Linked DNA regions of Homo sapiens: region 1 is linked to region 2. A link means that fine-mapping ties the variant in region 2 to the expression of a gene that starts in the linked region. Tissue or cell type: whole blood. Region 2 holds a variant in brackets; the other region holds the start of a gene. All regions are shown on one strand. Distances are from middle to middle.

The links. PIP is the estimated chance that this variant, and not a neighbour inherited with it, causes the effect.
Region 1: NUMBL starts here. The variant in region 2 is fine-mapped to the expression of NUMBL in whole blood (TOPMed, PIP above 0.99).

Annotation. Positions count from the first base shown.
Region 1 is chr19:40,685,676-40,693,675 of GRCh38, forward strand. It overlaps NUMBL (NUMB like endocytic adaptor protein), which reads right to left and starts at 4,976. Exons shown (of 10, transcript NM_004756.5): 1 at 4,785-4,976; 2 at 1,236-1,320. The coding sequence starts at 4,808. COQ8B (coenzyme Q8B) reads right to left here. Exons shown (of 15, transcript NM_024876.4): 14 at 7,276-7,362; 15 at 5,855-6,698. The coding sequence ends at 6,360. RefSeq lists enhancers at 1,849-2,143, 3,267-4,206, 3,880-3,929, 5,145-6,082 and silencers at 4,769-5,108, 5,429-5,668.
Region 2 is chr19:40,660,283-40,668,624 of GRCh38, forward strand. It overlaps NUMBL (NUMB like endocytic adaptor protein), which reads right to left. Exons shown (of 10, transcript NM_004756.5): 10 at 5,623-7,856. The coding sequence ends at 7,186. Among named protein-coding and RNA genes, the nearest start is that of NUMBL, 26 kb to the right of the region's middle. RefSeq lists a silencer at 2,636-2,915. The variant G/A (reference allele first, on the strand shown) is at 4,379.

The DNA of each region.
Region 1 (8,000 bases), 25 kb after region 2:
TGTCGTCTTTCAAAGGGTGTGTCCATGGCTGTTATCCATGTAGCTATGTCTCTGTGTGAAGGTGTGGCTATTGTCTGTGATGACATTGCCTCGGAGAGTGCATCTGAGGGATCTACAAGACTGTCTGTGTCCAAGAGTGCAGCTGTTGGCGGTGAGCCTGTGTGACTGTGGCTGTTGCCTTAGAGTGTGGGTGTGTGGGTATTGCACAGAGGGTGTATCTGTGTGCAGTGGTGCATCCGTTAGGGTGTGTGGGAACATGAGGTTGTCTTTGAGAGTGTTTTCATGAGGGTTATTTGTAAGGGTGTGACTGTTGCCTGAGAGAGTGCTGGGTGTTCTTTGTGAGACTGTGTGCATGTTTGTACACAACCGTAGCTCCCTGTGAGAGCCTGGGCCCGCGGGTGCTGTCTGTGAAAGTGTGGCTGTCGTCTGTAGAAATGTGGGTCTGTGTGTGTTGTCAGACTGTGCAAGAGTGTGTCTCTTTTTTTTTTTTTTGAGACGAAATTTTGCTCTTGTTGCGAATGAAGGCTGGAGTGCAATGGCATGATCTCAGCTCACAGCAACCTCTGCCTCCCAGGTTCAAGCGATTCTCCTGCCTCAGCCTCCCAAGTAGCTGGGATTACAGGCATGTGCCACCACCCCTGGCTAATTTTGTATTTTTAGTACAGACAGAGTTTCTCCATGTTGGTCAGGCTGGTCTCGAACTCCTGACCTCCTGACCTCAGGTGATCCTCCCGCCTCAGCCTCCCAAAGTGCTGGGATTATAGGCATTGAGCCACCACGCCCGGCCAAGAGTGTGTCTCTTGAGAGTGTGTATCTCAGAGTCTGTATCCAGCGAGCGTCTGTGGTCACCTGTGAATCTGGGTGTTGTCTAGGAATGTGTGTGTGTGTATATATGTGTGTACATTAGTGTGATGAACATCTACTTCAGCATGTGTTCAAGTGTGTCACTGCATTAGCAAGTGTGTGTGATCTGAAAGAGATCTGTGTGTGTGTGTGTGTCTCTAACCGTATATCTACAGATGTGAGTGTTTGTGACTCTGCACTTGAGGCTGTAAGGGTGTCAGGGTGTGGGTCTGTGCATGAGTGGGGCTCTGACAGTCGCTGAGGAAGATGCCTGAGGGTGTCCACTCATGAGTGTGATTAAGCCTGTGTGACCGCAGGGACAGCTCCTCTGGTCGTGTTAGGCAAGACCACATACCCATTCAGCCCTGCCCTGTCCCAGGCTGGTCGCTCACCTGGCTCCGTCCTGCAGGTTTCTGGGGGCCCCGGGGCCCCACAGGGGGCTGGGGGCAGGTGCCGCTCAGGCCTCCGGGGTCCGCCCTGCCCGAGTAGGGGAGGAGAAGGTGAGAAGTTTGTCTGGGTTGGGGCTCAGTCTGATACTTCACCCCGACTTTGGACTTCGGCCAGCCCCCTCCATCTTGGGCTCCCTGATGAGAGTCCTAGTTGTCCTAGCAACTGTTACCAGGGAGATCAGCCACCTGGTTCCAAGGGCCCAGGAAGGAGTAGGTATGTTTGGGGGGCATATGTTGGGGATGTGCTGGCCTCAGGAGAGCCTCACTGCCCAAGGGGATGCTGTGAGAGTGGCCTTGCCCTCCAGATGCATGTGCAGGGCTACACACATACGCAGCCAACTCATATCTACAGGTGTCCCTAGCATCTGGCCACAGCTTTACACACTTGGTTACACATAGACGCAATCACAGCTACACACCTCAGATCGCAGATACACAGAAACAGTCCCAAACCCAGAAAGCTGCCACTGTAAACATCTGGCCGCATATTCATGTTCGGACACACACAGTCTCTACTACAGACATTTGTCCACATACATGCAGCATGTCCTGGCCCACTCAGTTCCCACCGCAGACACCTGGTCACACCACCCACTGAAATTTGGTCACTTCCACATTCTCAGCCACATACAAAGAACGGGGCCCAGACAACCCACTAGAGCCGCACATGCGTGGCCACACCCAGTGACAGCTATGTTTCCTCAGGCACCCGCCCAAGATACTGACGTCACAGGCCCACCCAGATAGAATCACACCCAGAGTTCACCCATTTGCTGACCCAGTCCCACACGACACAATCGCAGCTATATACACTTGTTACACGTATCTCCACTGCTGCACACTGACATCTGGTCACAGATGCACACGGACAGACACACATTTGGTCCCACGGAGACCACATGCAGCCTCAACCAGACCAGTCACACCAACACACTGTTTTTGGCCACACACTGTCACGTGGTCACACATACTCAGTCATAGGTGCTCAAATCTGGTCACAGCATCAGTCACACAGTCTATTGTGACAGCCACACTCATAGGGACAGTCCTCTATACACAACCACATACAGAGGTACTGATGGCCACAGCATGCAACCACCCACAAACAACTGTCCCCAAGGATGGCCTCCCTCAAGACACAGCCATGGTGGTCCTATAGGCATGGCCACAGCATCAATGTCCATGTGACCCAGCCACCTATCATGGTCATAATCCCGTCACCCAGTGTCCATACACAGCTGTACCATGTCACTCCAATGCAGCGAAACATATAGCCTTTCTTCATGCAGGCACACAAGTCACACAGACAAGTATGTGGCCATATAGAATCACAGCCCCGTGTGGACAGGTGCACAAAGTCACAAGCCCCACCTACACACATATCTCACACATAGAGACATAAGCACACAGTTTTAGTTTCCCATGTCACAAGTACACAGTCCAGTGTATGCACATAAATGCAGTGACCAGGATGTGGCATTTATAGCTGGGTTTACACAGAAGACACAGGTCCTGACGGAGCCATGTGCACAGTCAGGGGCCAATCTCATCACCAAATCACACATTCTAACACAGGTAGTCCAGCACATACACACAGAGACAAAAACAGGCACACAGCTACAGACCCCACACTCTCACAGATGATGACATAGACACAGACATCTATAGTCACCCAGGGTCAGACATGCAGGTCAAACACAATAATATGGAAGCCATAATCATATACACACCCCTACAAACATAATTTCCTGGCACCAGCACGGAGACACATCCACAGCTTTAGTCACACACAAATAATCCCTCTAAATAGCCAGGGTTTCAGACACCAAGTCAAATACATAACCCAAATCACACATGCAAGGCTAGAAATACACACAATCACTCGTTATCACACACACTGCTAGATACAGTCATTTATATTAATACAACCTCAGTCACACACTCAGACATGGTTCTGCATACGCAACCACTGTCATACACAATACTGTCACACAACCCCAGTCACACAGATACAATGTGACTTCAGACACAATGGCAGTCACACAGGCAGAGTTGCACAGACAGGTGTGTGTCACTCACGTATATAAAATCAGGTAGAGACACAACTATAAACATTGTCAGTCACTGGGAGGGTCACACATGCACATGGAGCCATAGACAACTCCACTCACACACAGTCACAACTCCACCCACGTCCTGTCAGTCACACGCATGCCCACCCCCAGACTCAACACATACTGTCACATACCCAGTTATAGTTACCGAGGCATACAAACACAGGGTCACAAAAGACACAATCACAGACAACCACAGTCACAACCATGCACACCTCCAAACACAGACAGACTAAAAAGTACAGGATTCTGCACAGTGAGCAGCTGTCACACACACATACACAGTCACACAGATACTAGGGTCACAGACACAATCATAGACACCACCACAAGCACACACACACGACACAGGATTCCTCAGTCACCAGCTGCAGCGTACGCGTGCACACACACACACACATACACAGCCACAGTCACACAAACACAGGGCACACTCCTAGCCACCTCCCCATCGCTTGCTTCCCCCCTTCCCCCCAGGTACCACACACAAAGCCGCCGTCACCGTCACCGCAGACACTGCAGACAGACAGGGCTGCACCCGGTCCCTGGGGAGCCGCCCCCAGCCCAGCCTGTATCCTGGAGCCTGAGGGCCAGGTCCAGGAGGGGGAAGCGGTGCATTGTCTGCGGGTGGGGCCACTCTTGGACAGCTGGGCAGCCCTGGGGACAAAGGGGGTGGCCTAGGGATCCTGTGCCCTGGGACCCATGACCAAGCCAGGGGGTGGAGGGATTGGGGGTTGCCTGAAATTGTCCTTATTTTATTCAGGCTGGGGTGGGGTGGAGTCCCAGGCACAGGGACCTTGTTTTGAGAAGTGGCTGTGCCTGGGACTCCGCCCAAGGATTGGGGGGATGCTGTGCCCAGGGTGCCTCTGAGACCTGGGGGCAGGCTGTGCTTGGAGTCCCCCTAGGCCTTGGCGTGGTGGGAACGCTGTACCCAGTGACCCCATCCTCGAGACCGTACCTAGGCAGTTGTTGTGCTGAGACCCCCTTAGGCAGGGAGAGGTAGGGATTGTGTCTGGAATCGCGTCCTGGAGGCCTTGGTTTGATACGGGGGCTGTGTCCCCGACCCCATCTCCATCCCCATCTAGTTCTAGGAGTTGTACCTAGAATCTCTGTACCCCTGTCCTTGGTTTTGTGGGGGGTCTGTGTCCAGGATCCCTATTTCCAGGGCCTTGGCAAGAGATGGCCCAGGGGTCTGTGCCCAAGACCCCGGTCTCCTGGGCTTTGGCTTGTTGGGCCTGTTCCTGGACCCCCACCCGGGACCACCCTCTCCAGCCTTGGCACCCTCTCTCCATCCGGGCGCCGCGGCCGCCTCCCACCCTCCGCCACATCAGCAGCGGCGCCGCCCCCGACCCGAGCCCCCCTCTCCCGCCCTTCTCACGCTGGCCGCCGCGCTGCGGGACATCCAGGGCCCGGGCGCCCCCGCCTCCCGCGGCCCTGGCTGGGCCTGGCTCCCCGACTGCTGCTGCTGCGGTGGTGGCGGCGGCAGCTCGGTCTGACGCCGGCCAGGGCCCGGGGCCGGGGGATGGTGCGGGATGCACGCGCGCGAGCCTCCTCGGCTCCCGGGAGGATTCCGTTCCGGGGGCGGGGGAGCGTCCCTCGGCCTCGGCTCCCCGCCCCGACCCCGCCCATTGGCCCGCCGCCTGCCGTATATGCAGAAAGGTCCCGCCCCGCCCCGCCCCTTGGCCTGAAGACCCCGCCCACACGCAGACACCATCCCGCCTTCCCCGGCGCGGCCACCGCCCCGCCACGCCCATTGGCCAGTCCCGAGCTGAGCATGCCTATGAACATCGCCGAGTCCTTTCCCCCGGTCCGTCCTGGCCTGGGCTCCCTTTCCCTCCGTGACACCTGACCTCAGATCCCCTCCAGCTCCGCGTCCGAAAGAGTTGCTTCTAGAGGCGCCTTGCCGCCCCACACCCCCAAATCTTCCCGCTAACCCCATGGTTCCCCAGCCCGGCGGGGGCGGGCAGGAGCGGTGACGAGGCACTTTTTGCAAGGAAGGGGAGGGGGTGTGAACAGACCAAGGCGTCCTGATGCGCGATCGGTTCGGCTTTGGGAACGGGGGCGCCGGGGTGGGACCAGGGCGCGGTTCTGGCCGCTACGGCGCCCCCGCCGCCCCCTACGCCAATCCTGTGGGTTTGGCAAAGCAGCTGGCAGGGACATTAGAGCCCATTAGTAAAGGCGAGGTTGCCAGGAGTGAGGGGAGGGAGCCCGCAGCCAAGAGGCACTGTGTGTGTGGGAGGCCTCAGCTGCCACAGCCCTTAGAGCAGGTGGTCAGCACGTGGGGGGGGGTGGGGAAGGCGAGAAGGAGGTTCCCGGCAACAGATGGCACAGGCAGGGCTGAGGCTTTCAGACAAGGGGGTGCAGGGGGGCTGGCCATCTGCACCTGGAGGCCGCTGGCGAGCTCCTCCCCCTCTCCCCCCAACCCTAGCGCAGAGAAAAGAGCTGGGGGAAGGGGAGGGCTGCTTTTATTCCGATTGAAGATTCAGCTCCCCCCCACCCCGCACCCCTACCTCTCCAACACACTGAGAGGCTGGAACCCGGGAGAAGGCAGCTGTTGGAGGAGCGAGGGAGGCAGAGGTGAGGACTGCCTCCAGGACCATCTCGCCTTCCACGGGAGGCTTGAGGCAGAGGTGAGGGCTCCCCCTGATGAGTCTGATCTGCATAACGACATGCAGCGGCCCAAGGCTCCCTCAAATGTTGGCAAAGATAAGTTAACCGCTTCCCTGGCTTAGTTTTCGGATACCCACTTTCGAGTGGGGAGGTGCAGGATCTAGGGCACGAAGTTGGGAGTTCCCCAGCCCCAGGGATCCTGAGCTCCTGGGCCAAGGAGGAGAGCCAGGCAAGACTGGGAAGCCCAAGGGGGCTCCTCTGACCCAGGGCAGACGGGGAAGGGATAAGAGGCACTACAGCAGGGTACGGCCTGCTCTGGGGACTGAATCCCCCATGGAGGCTGTCATGAGGGATCCACCCAGGAGTCCCCTTTGGTGGGGAGGCTGCCGGCAGTGGCTGCGTCTGGCTGGCGACTGGCCCAGTAGCGGTGGTAGGTGTCCTGGAAGAGGTCCCTGCAGGCGATGTGGGCTCGGAGGTGGGCACAGGCCAGGAAAGCCCCTGCCAGCTTGCGGTGCAGGGCATAGGTCTCCTCGGGTGGGGGACACAGCCGGTGCCGCAGCAGCACCGGGATGAGGTCCTGTATGCGGCGGGCCGTTTCCCCCGACCCAAAGTCATAAGGGCCCTGGGTGGCGAAAGGCTCCCCCAGGATCATCACTGCCTCCACGTGGGCGTCGGAGAATGCCTGGGAGTGGGGGTGGGGGGAGAGCAAAGGCAGCCAGTGTGGACATAGAGCCCTCTGCATAACCCAGAAACAACGTGTAGCCTCCACTCCCTCCAGTCTCCACCATCAACACAAGCCCCGACTCCCCCAAGAGTGAGCAGCTTCCACTCCTTCCAGAGCCTGGACTAGACAAGCAGCTGCCTATTCCCCGAGTAAGCACCCCTTACTTCCCTGCAGAGCCTCCAACAGACAAGTAGCCCTCTACTCTCTCTACAACAGAGAAGCGGCCTTCGCCCCTCCTGAACAGATCCACGGTGCCCATGTTCCCAGGGTTCCTGAGAAGTCAGGCAGCCACCTCCCCCCACTCCTCCCCAAAGCCCCCAGCATGGATAAGCATCCCTCCTAGAGTCACCCACTCCCCAGGTATAGACACACAGCCTCCATTCTCCCTAGTGGAGACAAGCCCCTCCTAGAGTCCCCCAGTCCCCGGGTATCGACATGCCCCATCACCTACTCGAGTTCCTCAGTGGAGATAAGCAGCCCCCCACTGCACCCCACCAACAGACACCAGCCCCTTTCTCCCCCAGTGTCTCCCCACCTTGGTTTCAAAGCCTGTGAGGAATTTGAGGTCCCTGGACTTCTGCAGGACACAGTCTCTGTCTCCATCAGCTGCAGCCTTCACCACCTGGGGAGACGGGTGGGAGTTAGAGGGACAAAGGCCGGGGCTCAAGGGGGCTCTGGAGAAGAGGAGCTGGAAGCCTGGGCCTCCCATGTACCCACCTCCATTCTCATCTGCCTGGGCCCTCCCTCACCTGGAAGCTTCCTGCTCCCAACTTTGCCTGTCTGTGACTCCCTTAAAGACTCTTCCAGAGCCTGGGAGTGGAGGTGGTTAGGGATCCTGCCCACCTAGAGGGCAATGTGGGGCCTGCCCGGGAACTGCCACAGTGAAACAGTGCAAGAAACAAGTGTCAGGGCTGCTGGTGAGTCCAAACACTCAACTGGACGGGTATGAGCGTGACCCAGAACTGCATCCAAAGTTGCCAGGGGCCATCTCTCTGTCTCCCACACTGGACTTTGAGCCCCGTGAGAGCAAGGATCCCAGTTGGGTTTAGTCGCACGGGGCACAGGGTCTGGTGCTGAGGAGGCCCTGGGTGAACCTTGCTTTAGCAAATGAGCGTGTGGAGCAGAGCAGCTCTCCAGCCATGAGCTCACACACACAGGGCAGGAGTTGTGGGCATGGAGAGATGCCCAGCTGGGGCCAGCTGGCTAGGGTTCCGTCCCAGCTCTGCCACCTGCCGGCCTGTTGGGCCTCCACTTTCTCAT
Region 2 (8,342 bases):
ATCCCACCACCCTTTGCTGACTCTCTTTTTGGACTCAGCCTGCCTGCACCCAGGTGAAATAAACAGCCTTGTTGCTCACACAAAGCCTGTTTGGTGGTCTCTTCACAGGGACGCGTGTGACACTTAGCTGAACGTGCTGGCACGCACCTGTAGTTCCAACTACTTCGGAGGCTGAGGTGGAAGGATCGCTTGAGCCCAGGAGGTTGAGGCTGCAGTGAGCCACAATCTCACCACTGTACTCAGCCTGGGCGACAGTATGAGAACCCTGTCTCAAAAAAAAAAAAAAAAAAAAAGAAAAAAGAATTGTGTAAGCTGTACCAATTGAGATGTCTATGGTGTTGGCTATTGTTTCTGCTGTTAACTGTAAGTCCTCTTTAATTAAGGCATAAACAAATTTAATTTTTTTCTGCAAAAATTGATGTGGATGGTATGCCACGGTGGGCTTCATCTTCAGCATGACCCAGGCTGGAGTGCAGTGGCGCAATCACGGCTCACTGCAACCTCTACCTCCCAGACTCAAGTGATCCTCCCACCTCAGCCTCCTGAGTAGCTGGAACTACAAGTGTGCACCACCACACCCAGCTAATTTATGTATTTTTTGTACGGATGGGGTTTCACCATGTTACCCAGGCTGGTCTCGAATTCCTGAGCTCCAATGATCCGCTGGCCTCAGCCTCCCAAAGTATTGGGATTACAGGCGTGAACCACCACGCCCGAACTTGTCCCTTCTTAAAACGAGTTATCCATTTGTAAATGGCTGATTTCTCTGGGGCACTGTCAAGTTTTTGGAAAACATCAATGATTTCATCATTCTTCCACCCAAGCTTCACCATCAATTTGATGCTTGTTCTTGCTTCAATTTTAGAATTCGTGTTGCTCTGATAGGGGCTCTTTTCAATCTGATGTTTTATTTTAGTGTCTCAAACTAGGTCCTGTTCAGACAAGTTATAACAAGTTAGTATGAATTTATTTTGGTGCAAAAAAAAAAAATTGAACTCCATGCATAGTTTTTTCATAATACACATTTTCCATGAATTTTTGGAAGACCCTTCTTTTTCTCTCTTTTTTTTTTTTTTTTTTTTTTCTGTAGAGATGGTCTTGTTCTGTCACCCAGGCTGGAGTGCAGTGGCACAATCATGGCTCACTGCAGCCTCGACCTCCTGGGCTCAAGCAATCCTCCCACCTCAGCTTCCTGTTACTGGGACTATAGGTGTGCACCACCACACCTTGATAATTAAAAAAAAAAATTTTTTTGTAGAGATCGGGGTGGGGGGGGGGGTCTCACTATATTTTCCAGGCTGGTCTTGAACTCCTGGCCTCAAGTGACCCTCCCCAATCAGCCTCCCAAAGTGCTGGGATTACAGGCACAAGCCACAGTGCCTGGCCAATAAATGTTTTTTGAATGAATGAAGAAATTAGTGCATGGACATATTTTCCCATCAGCTATTACAATAACCAGACTCTGAGTTCCCTGAAGGCAGGGCCTGTGAGTTTCATTGTGTACCCTCAGCCCTCAATAGCTGATAAAAATAAATATTCAGAAAATGCTTGTAAAATGAAGAAGAGAATATGTATGGGACAGAAAGTAGACCAGTGGTTGCCTGGGGCTGGGACAGGGAATAGGGAGCGACTGCAAATGGGCAGAAGGGATCTTTTCAGAGTGATGGAAATGTTCTTGAATTGGCTGTGATGGCTGCAGAACTGTAAAATCACCCAAAATCAGTAAATCACTTATAATAGGTGAATTTTATGACAGGTAGATTATACCTCAGTAAAGCTGTTAAAACAAAACCAGTGTTGAGGGAGGAAATAAATGTTACCTTGGTAATACTGAGGACTCAGTAGTTATCAAGACAGCTCTCTTCCCTGCCCTCATGAGGTTTTCTGTGCAGGGCGGGGACGCCGACCCATTATAGACAGTGACAGCCTAGAGCCATCACGGCGGGATGGTGGGGAGGGGACAGGCAGAGGGGTGGGAGGCCAGGATGGGGGAAGCCCGGGCAGAGAGGTTGGGCTGGAATGGGGGGCACAGGCAGAGGGGTCGGGGCGGGGACTGGTGAGGTGCAGGCAGAGGGCAAAGGGGTCGAGGTCCAGATGGGAGATGTACAGGCAGACGGATCCGGGCCAGGGCGGGGAGGTACAGGCCCAGTTGAGGAGCATAAGGAACCATAGGAGCCCAAAGGAGGCGCCCGACCAGTCAGGGAGGACTTCCCAGAGGGGTGAATGGCTGAGCCAGGGCCTGAAGTATAATGTTCATGAATGCGACAGCAATTTTTTTTTTTTTGAGACCGAGTCTCCCTCTATCACTGGAGTGCAGTGGCTCGATTTCGGCTCACTACAACCTCCACCTACCGGGTTCAAGCGATTCTCCTGCCTCAGCCTCCCGGGTAGCTGGGACTACAGGCGCCCGCCCCCACGTCCGGCTAATGTTTGCATTTTTAGTCGAGACGGGGTTTCGCCATTTTGGCCAGGCTGGTCTTGAACCCCTGACCTCAGGTAATGCACCTGCCTCGGCCTCCCAAAGTGCTGGGATTACAGGCGTGAGCCACCGCGCCCAGCACAATTTTAATTTTTCTTAAACACTTTTCCTGCCTTAGCAAAGTCTTGGAGGGGCGGCCGCCCAGGCGCCGCGAGCGCAAGACCACGAGGGGGCGCTGCTTCACCACGCTAGAGGAGCGCTCCCGGCAACCACGTGGCCCCACAGGTGCGGGAGGTCGGCGAGCGCGCCTGGAGGGTGGACGGGGTAGGTTACGGCCAGGCAGCCCGGGGTGGCGCGTGGCCCTGCGCAGGGCAGTGGAAGCAGCGGGCCCCAGGGAGCATGAGACGCCGCGCTCCGTGGGGCGGTCCCAGCGCTGTGCAGCGAGGGGCCAGGGCTGTCCCCGGTCCTGCGCGGCCGGCTCCCGGAGAAACTGTGGCCTCCTGGGGGTGGAGCTTTAAAAAACAAAACAAAACAAAACAAAATCACCCAACAGGAAGCGGGGTGGGGGCGCCCGGCTCTGTCACCCGTGGAATGCATCAAAATAGCCTGCGCGGCCGGGGGCGGTTCCGGGAAAGGGGGCGGCCGCGAGGGGCGGGGCTGCAACGGAGGGCGGAGCTTCCCAAAGAACGGGAGAGAGGAGTGCAGAACCGGCCCCAGGGGGACGTCCTCCTGTTCCCCCAAAATGACCTCGATAGGCGTTTGTGTGGGATGGGGTTCCTGGGTAGGGCGGGGCTTTCCAGTGCGATGTCCCTGGTCTATTCTTAGCGGGCTGAAACCTGGAGAAGTGGGAGTGGGCGGTTGATCCGGGTTCCAGGGCCTCTTTGGAGCGAAAAGCTCCGTGGAGAGCCAGAGTCTCCATCCTGGGCGTGGGAGGGAAGATGGGAAATGGGCCAAGAGGAGCCTGTGGGAGGTCCTCCCCGGGACGGCCCCCTTCCATCTGCATCCGCGGGAACCGTTGTGGGGGCAGCTCTGAGAAAGGCTGCTCTGGGCGCAAGGAAGGGTGGTTGAACGAAGAGATCAGTCAGGGACGGGGTGGGGGTGCCTTGACTGTGTCCCAGATTTGCTGCGTGCTTCTGACCTCAGTTCCCCATCCTTCCAGTTGCTCAAATCCTCTCTGTCCCAGTCCTAGGCCGTTTCTGCCCCTCTCACTTCCTAGTGGTTTGCAGAGGGGAAACACTGAGGCTGCCTCTTCTGTGCCTGGCCCTGTGTTGGCACGGGGAAGTGACTGAGACGCCCCAGACCCCCTTCTCCCTCACAGTCCAGTGAGGCAGACAGACCTGCCACCAGATAGTGACAGCCCAGAATGAGTCATTGAGAGGACGGGGGAGGCACAGGCAGATGGGTCAGGGCTGGGATAGGGGAGGAGAGGGGCCTGTAGGATCCAAGGGGAGAGTGGGTGCTGCTGACTCAGTCTGGGGGGGTTGAAGAGCCGTCTGAACTTAGACCAAAAAGGTAGGATGGGGCCGGGCGCCTGTTATCCCAGCACTTTGGGAGGCAGAGACAAGAGGATCGCTTGAGGCCAGGAGTTCCAGACCAGATTGGACAACATAGCGAGACCCCCATCTCTACAAAATAATTTAAAAATCAGTTGGGCATAGTGGTGTACGCCTATAGTCCCAGCTACTCAGGAGGCTGAGGTGGGAAGATTGGTTGAGCCCAGGAATTCAAGGCTGCAATGAGCTATGATTGCCCCACTGCAGTCCAGCCCGGGTGACAGCGTGAGACCCCTGCCTCCAAAATAATAATAGCAAAAATACTGGGCTGGGCGCGGCGGCTCACACCTGTAATCCCAACACTTTGGGAAGCCGAGGTGGGCAAATCGCTGAGGTCAGGAGTTCCAGACCAGCCTGGCCAACATGGTGAAACCCAGTCTCTACTAAAAATACAAAAATTAGCTAG[G/A]TGTGGTGGCAAGGCATCTGTAGTTCCAGCTACTTGGGAGGCTGAGGCAGGAGAATCGCTTGAGCCCAGGAGGTGGAGGCTGCAATGAGATCACACCACTGCACTCCAGCCTGGGCGACAGAGTGAGACTCTGTCTCAAAAAATAAATAAATCCTAATGAAAGGATAGGATGGGGCTCAGGGCCTTGGAAGAGGGTCACCTTCTAACAAAAGGTATTTGAACGGAGTCCTAAAGAATGAGTAGCATTCTTCTGGGAAGTGCTGTGTCACCATGAAGGAAAGGGTGTTCTAGGCAGAAAGAATGACAAATGCAAAAGCTTGGAGGTGAGAGTGTGGCTTATCTCTGGCAGGGTCCTCTGCTCCCTGCCTGGGACATTCCCCCAACGTCATACCCCGACAGAGCTGTCTTAGGTCTCCTAGTCCTGGAGTCCACAAGCAGGTTAATGGGATGTAATGGAAACGCTATAGAGGGCAGACCCCTAGGCTTGTTCCCTCACAGCCTGATGCTTTTTTGTTTTTGAGACAGAGTCTCGCTCTGTTGCCCAGGCTGGAGTGCAGTGGCGTGATCTTGGCTCACTGCAACCTTGGCCTCCCAGGTTCAAGCGATTGTCCTGCCTCAGCTTCCCAAGTAGCTGAGATTACAGGCACCCACCACCACGCCTGGCTAAGTTTTGTATTTTTAGTAGAGACGGAGTTTCACCATGTTGGCCAGGCTAGTCTCGAACTCCCAACCTCAGGTAATCCACTTGCCTCGGCTTCCCAAAGTGCTGGGATTAAAGGCATGAGCCACCACGCCCAGCCTTTTGTTTTGTCTGCTTTTTTAGACAGGGTCTCACGCTGTCACCCTCACAGGCTGGAGTGCAGTGACTGCATCACGGACCACTGCAGCCTGGACCTCCCAGGCTCAAGCAATCCTCCCACCTCAACCTCTCCAGCAGCTGGGACTACAGGCGTATGCCACCACGCCCACCTAATTTTAAAATTATTTTGTAGAGACAGGGTCTCATTATGTTGCCCAGGCTGGCCTCGAACTCCTGGGCTCAAGCGATCCTCCCACCTTGGCCTCCCGAAGTGCTGGGCTTACAGGTGAGAGCCACCTCAGTGCCCGGCCTCAGCCTGATGGTTTCACGACTGCCTTTGACTTTGGCCCACACTAATCAAATGTATCACCGTGGGCCACTGACTCAACTTCCCCATCTATCCAGTGGGAATAGAATATTGGACTGCACAAAATCAACCACCTCATTTTAAAGAGCTATAACGAAACAAAATTTATATGTTATATATTTTTAAAAATACATCTTATAGATTAAAGGACTCAAGAAACAATAGCAAGACTGTAAAACGTTGCCACATCAGGTGACACTTTGGCCAGAGTTATGGAAAATGCTGACAAAACAAGAATTTGCCAGCATGGGCAAAGATATACTGTTACCAACCCAACTTGTTAAAATATTAATATTGAGCTAATTAGAAGTAGTTTTTTTTTTTTTGTTTTTTTTTTTTGAGACAGAGTCTCATTCTGTTGCCCAGGCAGGAGTGCAATGGTGTGACCTCAGGTCACTGCAACCTCTGCTGCCTGGGTTCAAGCGATTCTTGTGCCTCAGCCTCCTGGAATTACAGGCGCCTGCCACCACGCCCGGCTAATTTTTGAATTTTTGGTAGAGACTGGGTTTCTCCATGGCGGCCAGGCTGGTCTCGAACTCCTGACCTTAAGTGATCTGCCTGCCTCGACCTCCCAAAGTGCTGGGATTACAGGCGTGAGCCACTGTGCCCAGCCAGCAGTTCATAATATTTGTTTTTTATTCCTTGATTCTAACTCTGTAAGGAATAGAAATGGGGTGATTAATTTTGGCTCCTTTAATACCCGCCTGGCAGGTGCTGAGTCAGTGGTACCTGTTACCACGCTATGACTCAGAGGTTATCACTCAGGGACATCCTTCTGACTCTGTTTCAGTCCATGACTCAGGAGGAAAGGTTCTAGGGCCTCACCAGCGCCCTACACACACCCTCGTTTCCCGAGGGGCACCATTATATTCTTCCTTTATTGGCTGTCCTTGTATAATACAAATCTTCAAGTTTAGATACAAAAAAAATCTGGAAATAAAAGATAGAAAAGTACCCGCCAGGCACCCCTTCCCCTTCTTCCCGGACCCCTCCCCAGCGGGCACCGACATGAGGTAACTGCGCATCTTCTCCTCCTCCTCCCTCCCCGCCTCCTGGGCCCCCAACTTGGCCCTAGCCCCCATGAGACCTTGGCCCAAGGAAGACATGGGCCCCAAAGTTGGAGGGTGATGGAGGTGAGTACAGCATTGGCAGTGAACGCAGCGTGTGGGCAGAGGGCAGCCCTTAGCTTGTGCTGTGCATGGGGGGAGGAGACGACCAGATTTGGGGTGGGCACTGGTGTGGGGCCCAGGAGAGCCCCTAAGCAAGTGTCCCCCCTCCATCCTGTCCAACACTGGAAGGTGGGGGTCAACAGAAACTGGGAAATGGAGTGTGAACCAAGGGCATTCAGTGGGATTGTGGCCAACCCCTGTGTCTGGGGTTGGGGAAGGGGGCATTGCCAGCCTAAGTCCGGCAGTGAAATGGTTCCCTTAGCCAGGCTGGGTCCGTCCCTGAATTCCATCCTGTTGCAACCTGGGCGTCACAATGTTGGTTCTGTAGTGGTTGTCGGGGTGGTTGAGGGAGGGGGGTGTTGAGAGGGTGTTGAGGGGCGCAGCCCCAGGGAGCAGGGTTAGGGGAGAGGTTGTGCCTCCACCCCCAGGCGTGGGGCACCTGGAGATGATGGAGTGGGTGGGGCGGCTCGGGCTACAGTTCAATCTCGAATGTCTTTTGCAGGTCGCCAGAAAAGGGGTTGGAGGGTTTCTCTACAGTGGCTTTGCCTTCTAATGCCGCCCACTGGGCCTCAAAGGGGTCCAACTCTGGAGCTGGGGCAGGCGCTGGCTCAGGGGGCCAGGGGGCCCCATTGGGGCGAGGGCGGGCCTGGCTCCCAGGGGCACTGGGTATGGCAGGGGGCGGGAAGGCCCCAGCTTTCCCAAGCAGAGTGGCAGGCTGAGGCTGGAGCTGGGCGGCTGAGCAGAAGGCGTTTGCCACCATCTGTGAGGGTGTGATGCCCACCACGGGCACCCGGGGCATCGGTGGGTAGCCCAAGCCCGGGTAGGCGGGCACAAAAGGGGGCTGCATGTGTGGGGGTGGCAGGAACACGGCCACTTGGGCAGGTGCAGCGTCAAAGGGCCCCACGGGGGCGGGGAAAGGCTGCAGGGCAGGAGGCATGGTGGGCACTGGGGCCACTGAGGCTGCTTGCTGCTGTTGCTGCTGCTGCTGCTGCTGCTGTTGCTGTTGCTGCTGCTGCTGCTGCTGGGCCTTGGCCACCTGTGACACCTCCTCCAGCCATCGCTCAGCCTCTGAAGGTGTCCGCTTGTGCCCAGGCTGGAAGGCAGCTGCAGGGGGCACGGAGGGCTCACCCCAGGCAGAAGTCCCTGGAGAGAGGAGAGGGACAGGTGAGGGAGGGGGCAACGGCTTCAGCAGAAGAACCCCAGGCTGGGAACTGGCATGGTGTGGGGATCAGAGCACGGACTCTGGAGCCAGACCGCCTGCCTCTGAATCCCAGCTCTGCACCTCCCGAGCTTGCTGACTTCAGGCGAGTGACTTCACCATTCTGGACCACGTAATGGTTCTGGAGTGCTAAGAACATACAATTCTGAGCTTCTAAGGCCCTATGATGAGAAAGTCTAAGTAGGACTGACATCCTCCTAGCCCCACTACCCTTCTGACTGGTCAGTGCCAAGCCTAGGATTCACTATTTTGTTTTGTTTGTTGTCTGTTCGTTTTGAGAGTCTCACTCTGTTGCCCAGGGATGCCCTATCTGGGCTCACTGCAACCTCTGCCTCCCAGGTTCAAGCAATTCTCGTGCCTCAGTCTCCTGAGTAGCTGGGATTACAGGCGCGCACCATTACGCCCGGCTG